2 linked regions of the Homo sapiens genome follow. The protein of the gene in region 1 purifies or fractionates together with the protein of each later gene. This does not show direct contact. Each region holds a gene or a part of one and is shown on either strand. Other genes may lie near its edges.

Evidence for each region.
Region 2: the proteins of PCED1A (region 1) and S100PBP purify together in Homo sapiens (affinity purification with mass spectrometry; one large-scale study listed by BioGRID and IntAct). This does not show direct contact.

What each region holds. Positions count from the first base shown.
Region 1 is NC_000020.11:2,836,773-2,842,138, forward strand, and holds the start of PCED1A (PC-esterase domain-containing protein 1A), read right to left. Parts: upstream 3,884-5,366; 5' UTR 3,439-3,883; exon of another isoform or gene 3,162-3,438; 5' UTR 3,141-3,161; coding exon 3,017-3,140; intron 2,500-3,016; coding exon 2,420-2,499; intron 2,311-2,419; coding exon 2,072-2,310; intron 1,975-2,071; coding exon 1,824-1,974; intron 1,707-1,823; coding exon 1,460-1,706; intron 1-1,459. Other genes in the region: VPS16 (vacuolar protein sorting-associated protein 16 homolog), read left to right, coding at 4,003-4,055.
Region 2 is NC_000001.11:32,851,553-32,856,756, forward strand, and holds part of S100PBP (S100P-binding protein), read left to right. Parts: intron 1-1,526; coding exon 1,527-1,614; intron 1,615-4,371; coding exon 4,372-4,486; 3' UTR 4,487-5,204.

The DNA.
Region 1 (5,366 bases):
TACTAAATGTAACCACTTGCTAACAAATTCCCTTCTTCTCAACAGTCATGTGACACTGCCAGCAGCCTCAGTCCTTCCTAAAAGTGCCCCTGCCCTCATCTCCTTTTGTTTCCGCCATAGCCCCTCTTTCCTGCCAATCCAAAGCATGAGCATCGTTCTGTCTCCCTCACAGCTGCCACTGTGCCCTCAGTTTTAATCTCTCTGCTGGGTACCAATGACTGCAAATCTACTCTGTATTTCCAAAGAACCTCAAATCAATCTGCTGTGACCAAACTCACCAACTCATCCTTCCACCCCAAATCAACTCTCCCTTTTCATGGCCCTAACTTCTGTAGCTCCAAATTGGATTTCAAAGGCCTAAGCCATCAAAACTAGCCTTACAACCTTCAGGGCATCCCATCATTTGCTGGGGATCAATTATTACATCTAAACAAGAAAATGGGGATGTTTAACCAAAATCTGTATTCACCTCCCTGATGCTCCAACTCCTGGCTACCAAGTGTTACAGGTCTGTCTCTATGATATTCCTGGACTCTCTGTGCCCCCACATCCTCTTGTGCTGCCATAATCGGCCTTCTAACATGACTCGTGCCTCCCATTCAACAAATACAATTCTGTTGATACTGTGTACAGGGAAATTGTGCTAGACACTGGGGCTGAAAGGGGTGAGTCGTCAACAAGTGCAGCAGGAAACTTGCCCTTTAAGGACACGATGCAGGGGAGAAGCAGCCATGGAGACAATCAGCCATGGTGCCCTCTTTGTGTGCATGCAGGGACTAGGGTGTTGACATGGAAACAGAGGTTCTGCAGCAGAGTGTTACAGTTGAGATGTGATGGGGAGCAGTGCCTCAAAACAAGGGGGAGTGGGGCCCTCAGAAGCCTCCACCAAAGGCCCAGAGATGGGGCCCGAGGAGAGCTACACCAAGCTGCACCAGTCACAGTGGGACTCTGAGGCTGAACTAAGAAGCCTATGGAACACTGTCCATTGAGCCCAAGTCCATAAGGCTGGCCTTCCCGATGCAACATCCCTGTTCCACACCCTGCCAGTTGACTGTACCCCCACCCCCCAGCTGTGGGCTTCTTTGCTTCTGCCACACTGCCTGGATGGCCCTTCCTCCCTGTCTTTCCACTCCTCACACCCATGCCCCATTTCTTTCCTGTTAATCTGTTGGGTAGGACCCTTGCAACATGCTGCCTTATGTGGTCAATACTTGTACAAGCTCCTTCAAGCACACAGAAATGACTACACAGCCAGACTGTAGAAAACTGGAACTTGGACAAGAATATTGCTCCGATGATCTAACCCTCCTCAGGGGTTGAGGAAGGTGCATGCAGAAGCCACAGGAGTCCTTCAAGGGACCTCTACTTCCCTTGAGTGGCTGTGTCCCATTCTGTTTCTGAGCCCTGTCCTCTGAGGGCCCCAGTGCATCACTACCCCCCCACTTATGGTAGGGCTCACCAGGGGGATAGCCACGCTTGGGCAGCTCCACGCCCCAGGCGTCAGCCACATGGGTCAGAAGCAGGTGTGAGAGGTGGCGGTGTGCATGCTGGTCCCAGTGGACACCATCCCGATGACGGTGCTGTACTGCATGCCGGAAGTGAAAGTGGAGGTCTAGGACATCAAAGCAGTGGTCCCCGGCCAGCGTAGCACTGTAGAAGTTCCCTTCAACCACATCCCGCCGCAGGGAGCCTGCCAGGGGCTGGAGCTAAGTGAGAAAGTGCAGCCTCTAAGAGCCACAGAACGCAGCAGGGTCTGAAAGCAGGGTGTCCTATCTACCAGTCTGCTATCCCATCTCTTGTCCTGATGGGCCTCAGTCACTTGCCTCTGGCAGGAGGAAACCCCCAGTGATACGTTCCCCGAGGGGCATCGCCATGTTCCACACCAGCAGGCAGGAGTCTGGCAATACTTGGTCCATGCGCACAAACACCCGCTCCAGGTTCTCCCGGTAGCTCTCCATTGAGCAGCGACCATATCTGTTGGATAACACACAGGGTGGGCAAGAGCACAAGGGTGGACTGCCTCAGCCGTACTTCCAGCCCCAACCAGTATTCCCCTTTCCCTCGCCCCAACCTGGAGAGATCCCAGAGGCAGGAGTTGATGATCACCAGGTCCGGGGCAGGTCCATATGTCAGCTCTTCCAGAACATCCTCAAGGTACTCGGAGTAAACACGAGTGAGGAAGTAGAAGCGCACAAGGTGGTGGCCAGAGCCCGAGCAGAACTGGCGGACCTCACGATACTGTGTCCCGTTGTGCAGCTCGCCCAGCTGGCCCCCAGCCACCAGCTGGTCCTGTTCAAAGCTCAGCTCCCCCTACCCACCCCCCCCACCCTACTGGTCAGACCCATGCCAGGGAGGAGAACCCTGCCAGGCCAGGGTCTGTGCCCACCCACCACTGACATGGCCACCAAGCTTCCCTCACCTTGGCTTTCAGCTGGGCAGCTGTGAGCAGTGAGTCTTTCTGGAGCAAGAGCACCAGGTCCTTGTACACAGCCCTCTGAACTGGGAGGAGACAGAGATCCCAAGGCTGAGGCAGACCTCAGCCTGCCCCAGCTCCTTCCAAGTCCAGGACCCCATTTTCCCAGGGCTGAGGTGCCCGACACCAGCTCTGTGGTTGACTTAGACGCAGGAGAAAAGATGAGGTTAAAAAGTCCTGGCATTGCCTCTGTTCTGTGTGCCTCCTGGCCAGCAGTATACAGTGACCCAAGATCACCTGGCAGAAATTAAGTCGGCCAAGTCACCCAGGAGACACACTACACAATGCAACGCTTTCGTGATGGAAATTATGGGGAGCTGTCAGGGCGAGAAATGCTGAGCAAGGATGGGCTAAAAAGTGCACAGGTTATTACACCTGTCAGGACTCCTGTGGAAGATGTGTGGGACATAAAAAGAGAAAACCTACTGGACGGAACAGACCAGAAGACAGACAAGAGATGTGAGATGGAAACAAATGGTCCAGACACACTGAACGGGCTGCAAGGTGTGGGACTGGAAGCGTCACCCTAGAAGAGGCACTCACTGGAGTCCCCCAAGATGACCACGAACTTGTTGTGTAGCAGCTGCTGGACTTCCGAGGCCTGGAAGTGGACCATGTCGCTTCGCAGCGGGCGGCGCGGCTCCTCGCTCGACAGACAGAAGACCATGCCGCCACCAGCAACGACAGGCTGCAGGGAGAGGCCACTAAGCAGCGCGATGGTGGGGACTCTGGGCAGGTCAGCCTCAGGGCTAGCCCCTCCGGGGCTGCTCAATGCTAAAGGGAGGAGGTGACGGCAGCAGAGCCATGGTGGCGCCAGCCTTGGTCACACTTGGTACCAGAGGCAGGGGGTCGTCCAGCCAGCAGGCCTCCAGGGCACTGGGGAGCTTCCCGCGCGGCGCCGCCCTGCGCCTCGCCACGTGCCCGCCGCCGTCCCGCGCATGCGCGCACCCGCTCGCGCCAATTACCAAGTCCCGGGGCTCCGCGGTGTTCACCCGCGACCCGGGTATGCCTGCGCACCGCGCGCCTGGCCCGCAGCGGGCTCCTAGCCAAGCCTCATGTTCCCGCGCCCCAGTCGGCCAGTCGGTTCTGCAAAGCTCCCGCCCCGCAGAGACCGTGGGTCCAGGTTAGCCGTCGGTGCACAGCCCAGCGCCCAGCGCTCTCCATGCGAGCGTCGCTGTGGCCCCGACGGCGCCTCAGGCCTCGGCGCCTCGGGCTGCGACGCTCACAGCTTCCACTTCCGTTCACCCATGTCCCGCCCTGAGCGACCCCCAGTGCCCGAAGGGAAAGCAAGGCGATGGAGGTGGCCGCCACAGGGCGCAGGAGCCAGGGCTGGGCCCACTTGGCGGGCGCGAAGCCCAGGTACGGGCTGGGGTCTCGGGGCGGCAGCCAAGTGAGGCTGCCCACAGTGGTGATGGCCGCGGCGGCGGCCTCGCCACGTGACCCGGACGGGCGGAAGCGGAAGTGCCGGCCTGGAGCCCGCTCTAGGTGGGTGTCCCCTCGGTGCTTCCCAGCTGCCGTCTGCACCAGCCATGGACTGCTACACGGCGAACTGGAACCCACTCGGGGACTCTGCCTTTTACCGGTGAGCTGCCCCGCCCTCCCGCCCACGGCCTGGCTTACCCTGCTCGCCCGCCGGCTGGAGTCTCCCGGCGGCGTTCGCCCCTGTCACTACTGGCGCTGGGGTCCGCCCCGCGCCGGCTCTCCCCGAGCGTCTGCCACTTAGCGCACAGCCGCCTTTGGGCAGGGAGCCGGGCCTTCCCCTGCTCCAGAAAAGGAAACTGAGGCAAGCACAGTGGTCACCCCGAAGCCCAGGTCTGTTAGCCTCCGGAAAGATGCTCAGATCTCGCTGAGGGAGGCAGCTCGCGGGTGACAGCGAGTGCCCAGTCTCCTGCCGGAAAGTGCTGCTGAAGTCAGACCACAGGGGCGCTCCGAGGGGGGCGGGATCGCACGGCGGGCGGGGTAACAGTGCTGACCAAGGCTGGGAAAAGGGGGCGAGTCGTCCGTGAATCCCGGAACAGCGGAAGTGGGAACCCCTGGGTTAGGGCAGCCCGCCCATGGGAGTTGTAGAGTCCTAAACCACGGATTTTTCTAAAGTGTAAACCCGTTACATCGTTACCCAGATTAGGATTTTCCCATAGCTTCCCTAATAGGAAAAACTACGAACTTCTCGTGGAACGTCTATCTGTAAGGCAGCCCGTTTGTCTCTCCAACCTCATCTACCGCTCTCCTACCCAAATCTTGCGTTCCAGCTGCGCAGAATTACAAGGCCCTAACCAGTCTGCAGTTTCTGTGGATACTGCCATTTCTCTCTTTATCTCACTGAAGAATTTTGCGCATCCTTCAGGACTTAGTAGTTCAAGGGTTCTTTCTGGAACTGTGCCTGATTCTCCCCCAATAGAATCCTGTGGGCCTCACTGGGCCCAGTGCTAGGGTCTTTTAGGTATGGTCTATTTGTATATTTAGGCGACATTTGTATAGGTTTCTTCTGCTAAACCAGGCTCCTTCAGGGCTGAAAGCATTTTTTTTTTTTTTGACAGAGTCTTCCTCTGTTGCCCAGGCTGGAGTGCAGGGGCACTCGGCTCACTGCAACCTCCGCCTCCCGGGTTCAAGGGATTCTCCTGCCTCAGCCTCCCGAGTGGCTGAGACTGCAGGCCCCTGTCACCACGCCCGGCTAATTTTTGTATTTTTTGCTAGAGGTGAGGTTTCACCATGGTGGCCAGGCTGGTCTTGAACTTCTGACCTTAAGCAATCTATCCACCTTGGCCTCCCAAAGTACTGGGATTACAGGCGTGAACCACTGAGCCCGGCCAAAAGCATGTTTCTTGCTTCTCTTTATCACCAGTGCATATTTAGAACAGTGCTTGCTATGTAATAATTGCCCATTAAAGTTTTT
Region 2 (5,204 bases), on another chromosome or scaffold:
CTACTTAGGAGGCTGAGGCAGGAGAATCACTTGAACCCGGGAGGAGGAGGTTGCGGTGAGCCGAGATCACACCACTGCACTCCAGCCTGGGTGACAGAGTGAGACTCCATCTCCCACCCCACTACCCACAAAAAAAAGAAAAAAAAAGTGTTTCTTAGACCACCAGCATTAGCATCACTTGGGAATTTGCTTGAAATGCAAATTCTCAGGCCCTACCCAGATCTGTAGTTTTCTGATTATGTATAATCAGAAAGTCTGGAGGCTAGGCCCAGCAATCTGTTTTACAATACCTCCAGTTGATTATAATGTATGTTAAAATTTGCGAACCACTGGTCTAGGGAAATTATTTCCTAACTAGTGTTTTATTTCTGCTTCTATTGAGTTTTAGCCTAAGTCTCAATCGTTGAGTGCAAAATTAGCATTATTGCATAGTGGCAAGGACATGGAGTCACACAGGAGCTAGTTGAATCCTGGGTCATCAAGAATTTCAGGGCCATGCATGGTGGCTCACACCTGTAATCCTAGCACTTTGGGAGGATCATTTGAGGTCAGGAATTGGAGTCCAGCCTCGCCAACATGATGAAACCCCATCTCTACTAAAAATATAAAAATTAGCCTGGCATGGTGATAGGCGCCTGTAGTCCCAGCTACCCAGGAGGCTGAGGCAGGGGAATCACTTGAACCCAAGAGGCAGAGGTTGCAGTGAACCGAAATCATGCCATTGCACTCTAGCCTGGACGACAGAGCAAGACTCTGTCTCAAAAAAAAAAAAAGTATTTCAGGCAAGTTCACCTCCCATAGTTTCCCATCTTTGAAATGATATTAATAACATCTATCTCCATGTAAGATTTTTTTTAGAATTAAGTAAGATAATATGTAAAGTGTCTAGTACATTGCTAGGATCCCAGGTGTTTGAGAAATTGCATCTAGCAATTTTTCTTGTTAGCAAAGAGCGCCCACCTCCATCTGTTCTAAACTCCTCTTGTTTCTTGAATGTATTTGCTGTCTTTTGTCTCTGGGGCTTTGTATTAACTGTTATCTTTTGGCATCCAACCTCCTACCCCTCTTTACCTCACTAATTTTATACATCCTTTAGATCCCTGCTATAGTTACTCCCCCTGGAGGGGGCTTTCCCTAACCCCCACCCCCCCAGTCTCTATAGCAGTCTGTATTTCTATCACTGCATTTATCACACCACTTTGGAATCATCTGTCTCCTGTATAAACTTCATTGAGGTAGTGTCTTGTTCACTGCCATATTCCTAGGGACAAGTAAAGTTCCCTGTATATTGTAGGAGCTAAGTGTTGAATGAATGAATGGTGGCTGCTATTATTGCTTCACCTTCACCCTCCAAGAGTAATCTCCCCATTCTGGTTTATAGTTTCTGTGCTCACTGCTTGTGATAATTGTAAGTATATATTGTTGAGAACAGTGCCTGTTTTCTCTTTCCCTGAAAACACATACTTTGACGTTGGCTGACGTAGTTCACTCAGCTGTTCCTAACCACTGATCCCTCTGTATCACAGGTATCTCGGGGGAGCTTTGTGCCTTGATGGATCAAGTTCATCATATGCAGCACTCAAAATGGCAGCATCCTTCGGACCTCACCACGCGGTGAGTGGGTGATTAGAAGAAGATGGAAAAGGGTAGAATGGCTGGGCGCGGTGGCTCACACCTGTAATCCCAGCACTTTGGGTGGCCAAGGTGGGTGGGTCGTTTGAGACCATCCTGGCTAACATGGTGAAACCCCATATCTACCAAAAATACAAAAATTAGCTGGGTGTGGTGGCAAGCATCTGTAGTCCCAGCCTCAGGAGGCTGAGGCAGGACAGTTGCTTGAATCTGGTGGCGAAGGTTGCAGTGAGCCAAGATGGTGCCACTGTACTCAAGCCTGGGCGGCAGAGCAAGACTCCGTCTAAAAAAAAAAAAAGAAAAGGCGGTGGGGGGGGGGCGCGTGAAATTTGGCTGCAGGAGGAATGTAGTGGGGAGTAGGGGTTGGAATTGTTTAATTCAAGAGGCAGGGGGAAAAAGTGATGCAGTATAATGGAATAAGAACTGGACTGAGGCTGAGCACAGTAGCTCACGCCTGTAATTCCAGCACTTTGGGAGGCCAAGGCAGGAGGATTGCTTGAGCCCAGGAGTTCGAGACCAGCCTGGCCAATGTGAGACCCCGTCGCTACAAAAAATACAAAAACTTAACTGGGCATGGTGGTGTGTGTCTGTAGTCCCTGAGAGTGCCTGAGAGAAAAGGATTGCTTGAAGCCCAGGAGCTTGAGGCTGTGATGAGCAATGATTGTGCCACTGCACTCCAGCCTGGGCAACAGGGCGAGACCCTGTCTCAAAAAACAAACAGACAAAACAAAAACTGGACTGAAATTCAGGAAACCTGAGTTCTAATACTAGCTTTGCAACTTGGTGTCAAAGGACCTTCCTAATTCTGAAATCTTCTGGAATTTTTTTTTTTTAAGACTCAAATTTAGTATTACAGTTTTCTGGATTCTTGATGCAGTGTGGCTGTACAAATTTATTCAGTTACTTTGATTCAGATACTCAAAAACCTTGGAATCATCTTTTACTTTTTTCTCTCTCACCCCATATTCAGTCTATCAGCAAATCCCATAGGTTCTGCATATACAGTTGTCCTTGGTATTCATGAGGGATTAGTTCCAGGACCCTCTCTGGATACCAAAATCCACAGATGCTCACGTTCCTTATATAAAATGCCATAGTGTTTGCATAACCTGTGCACATCCTTCCATATACTTTAAATCATCTCTAGATTACTTATGATAACTAATACAGTATAAATGCTATGCAAATAGTTGTTATACTGTATTGTTTAGGAAATAATGACAAGGAAAAATGTCTATACATGTTCGATACAGATGGAACCATTCATTTTTCTTCTTTGAATATTTTTGACCCATGGTTGGTTAAATCCATGGATGTAGAACCCATGGATATGGAGGGTCAGCTGTATATCCAAAGCCTAACTATTTCTCATCATTTGACCTGGATTGTTGCAAGTCTCCTAAATGGCCTCCCTGCTTCTGCCCTTGCCAGTGCACTGTTCACAACTCAGCAGCCAAAGAAAGAGATTCTTTTAAAGCATAAATCACATTTGCTCAATATTTCCCAGTGGCTTCCCATCTCACATCTTCCCATTCTCGTAATCCCCTACAAAGGCCTATATGCTTTGGCCTATGCTCACCGACCTCATCTCCTAATACTCTTCCTCTTGCTTCAGGGCCTTTACAGTCATATTCCCTCTGTAGTTGTCAAAATCATAGCATTTCTCAGAAGGAAAGGCAGTGTAGTGTAATTGTTAATAGATAAATTCTGGAGTCAGATGTGAATTCAAATCCAGTTCTGCTTACTCTACTCTATGACCTTGGGTAAATTATTAACCTGAGGCTCAATCAATTTCCTTACCTATACAAGGACTTAATGAAAATACTAGTAGGATTGTCACAGTATTAAGTGAGGAGAGGTATTTAAAGAATTCAGCAAGTACTTGCATATAGGGATAGATAAATGTCAGGTACTGTTACAGTTATTTTCAACCCTGGCGACTACTCATAATTACCTGTGGAGATATCTAAAAATACAGATGTTTGTATCCTGATTCCAGGTATTCTAAGTCATTAAGTCTGGGAGGAGGGAGAGGCCAAGAATCCATATCTGTATTTGTTTTTTCTTTTTCTTTTTTTAAATTTTAGAATGCGTATCTTCAGAAAGCTTCCTAGATTATTAGGAGCACTTTCAGAGTCAAAAATGGGATCAGATTATCTCAGAGCGTCTTGCTCAGAACTGCAGCCCAGCACATAACTAAATGAGACTTTTAAGAAATTTTACTGTGAGTCTGTGCTGTTAATTTTTCAGTCTCTAAACTCACATGATGACTTACCTTTCTGGGAATTTATTCTAATTTTAACTGCTGTGTCCTGAGCAACCTTGAGCTGTGTCAGACAATGAGGTCCTTTTGGAGGTACAGGTGTGATGCAAACAATAAAATATAGATCCTATCCTAAATTCTTCTGGAGGAATAAAATGGTTTTTTTTTTCTCCCCTACTTAAACATTATTCTACATTAGTTTTCCTTAGAATATTGTGTATATGGCACATATCACCATAATACCTATGGGAATTAGGTGGCTTTGGGAGTTGGAAAGAAATAGCACTTACGGTGTGGTGTTCATATAAATGAAATAGTATAAAATTTCTAAAATTGTGAGAATTGAAATATAAAATTAATATCTGATTTCCAAAAGTAAAGATCTTCTTAAAATTGTTGTGCTGGCCTTTTTTTGTGTACAAATAGCCATTCTAGTTGAAATAGCCTTCCTGTTTGTACTCTCCCTCTCTCGATAGAAACTACGCCCGCCGACAGAAACATCTGCAAAGATACAGTCTGACTCAGTGGGTTGACAGGAACATGCGAAGCCACCATCGGTTCCAGCGTCTCCCAGACTTCTCGTACAGTTAATTTGTGTCATCCCATCAGCAATGAAGGTCCCTATCCAGGGTCCTGCTTGGAGCAGCATTTCATGTTCTTTTGCTGTTTTGTGCTTTGCCGATTTTGGATTTTATTTTTCACAAAATTTTTATTTAAAAAACTCGTCACCTTTTGGAAATGCCCATTGCCGACTTGAATTTTTTTGTATGAAGTCCCTCCTGATTTTGTGTGTGTGTGTCTGTGTTTAAGCAAGCGTTCGGTTGGTATAGTTTTTTTTTGTTTTTTTAATTTAAATTGAAGGTAGCTGCCTCCTGAAAGCCAGCATTAAGCCAGAACACCCAGGTTCAAGCAAAAGACCCACCTCTCTGCAGAGGCAAAGTCTACTTTCTGGTACCTCAAAGAAATCATTGTTCAATCTTCCATAAGGAAGAGATTCTTTACCAGGCTGTGAGCCAGTGTTAGATAACTTGTGAATGGATATAAGTTACTTTTAACAACCCCTCTTACTTTTTTATTTGAATCCTCTGAATACCTGTCAGTATTTTAAAGTTGGCAATCCAGGACATTATAAGTAGGATGGAGCAGGAGAAGAATCCTATTGAAAGGACAAATTAAAATAGTAAATCCTCTCCTCTCCCTTCTGTAGGTACTAGCTGCCTTGATTTTTTTTTGTGGGTGGGGGGGATTTTTTCATTCCTTATTGAACTTATTTTGCACAATAGTGTTTACAAATCTTATACATCTTACT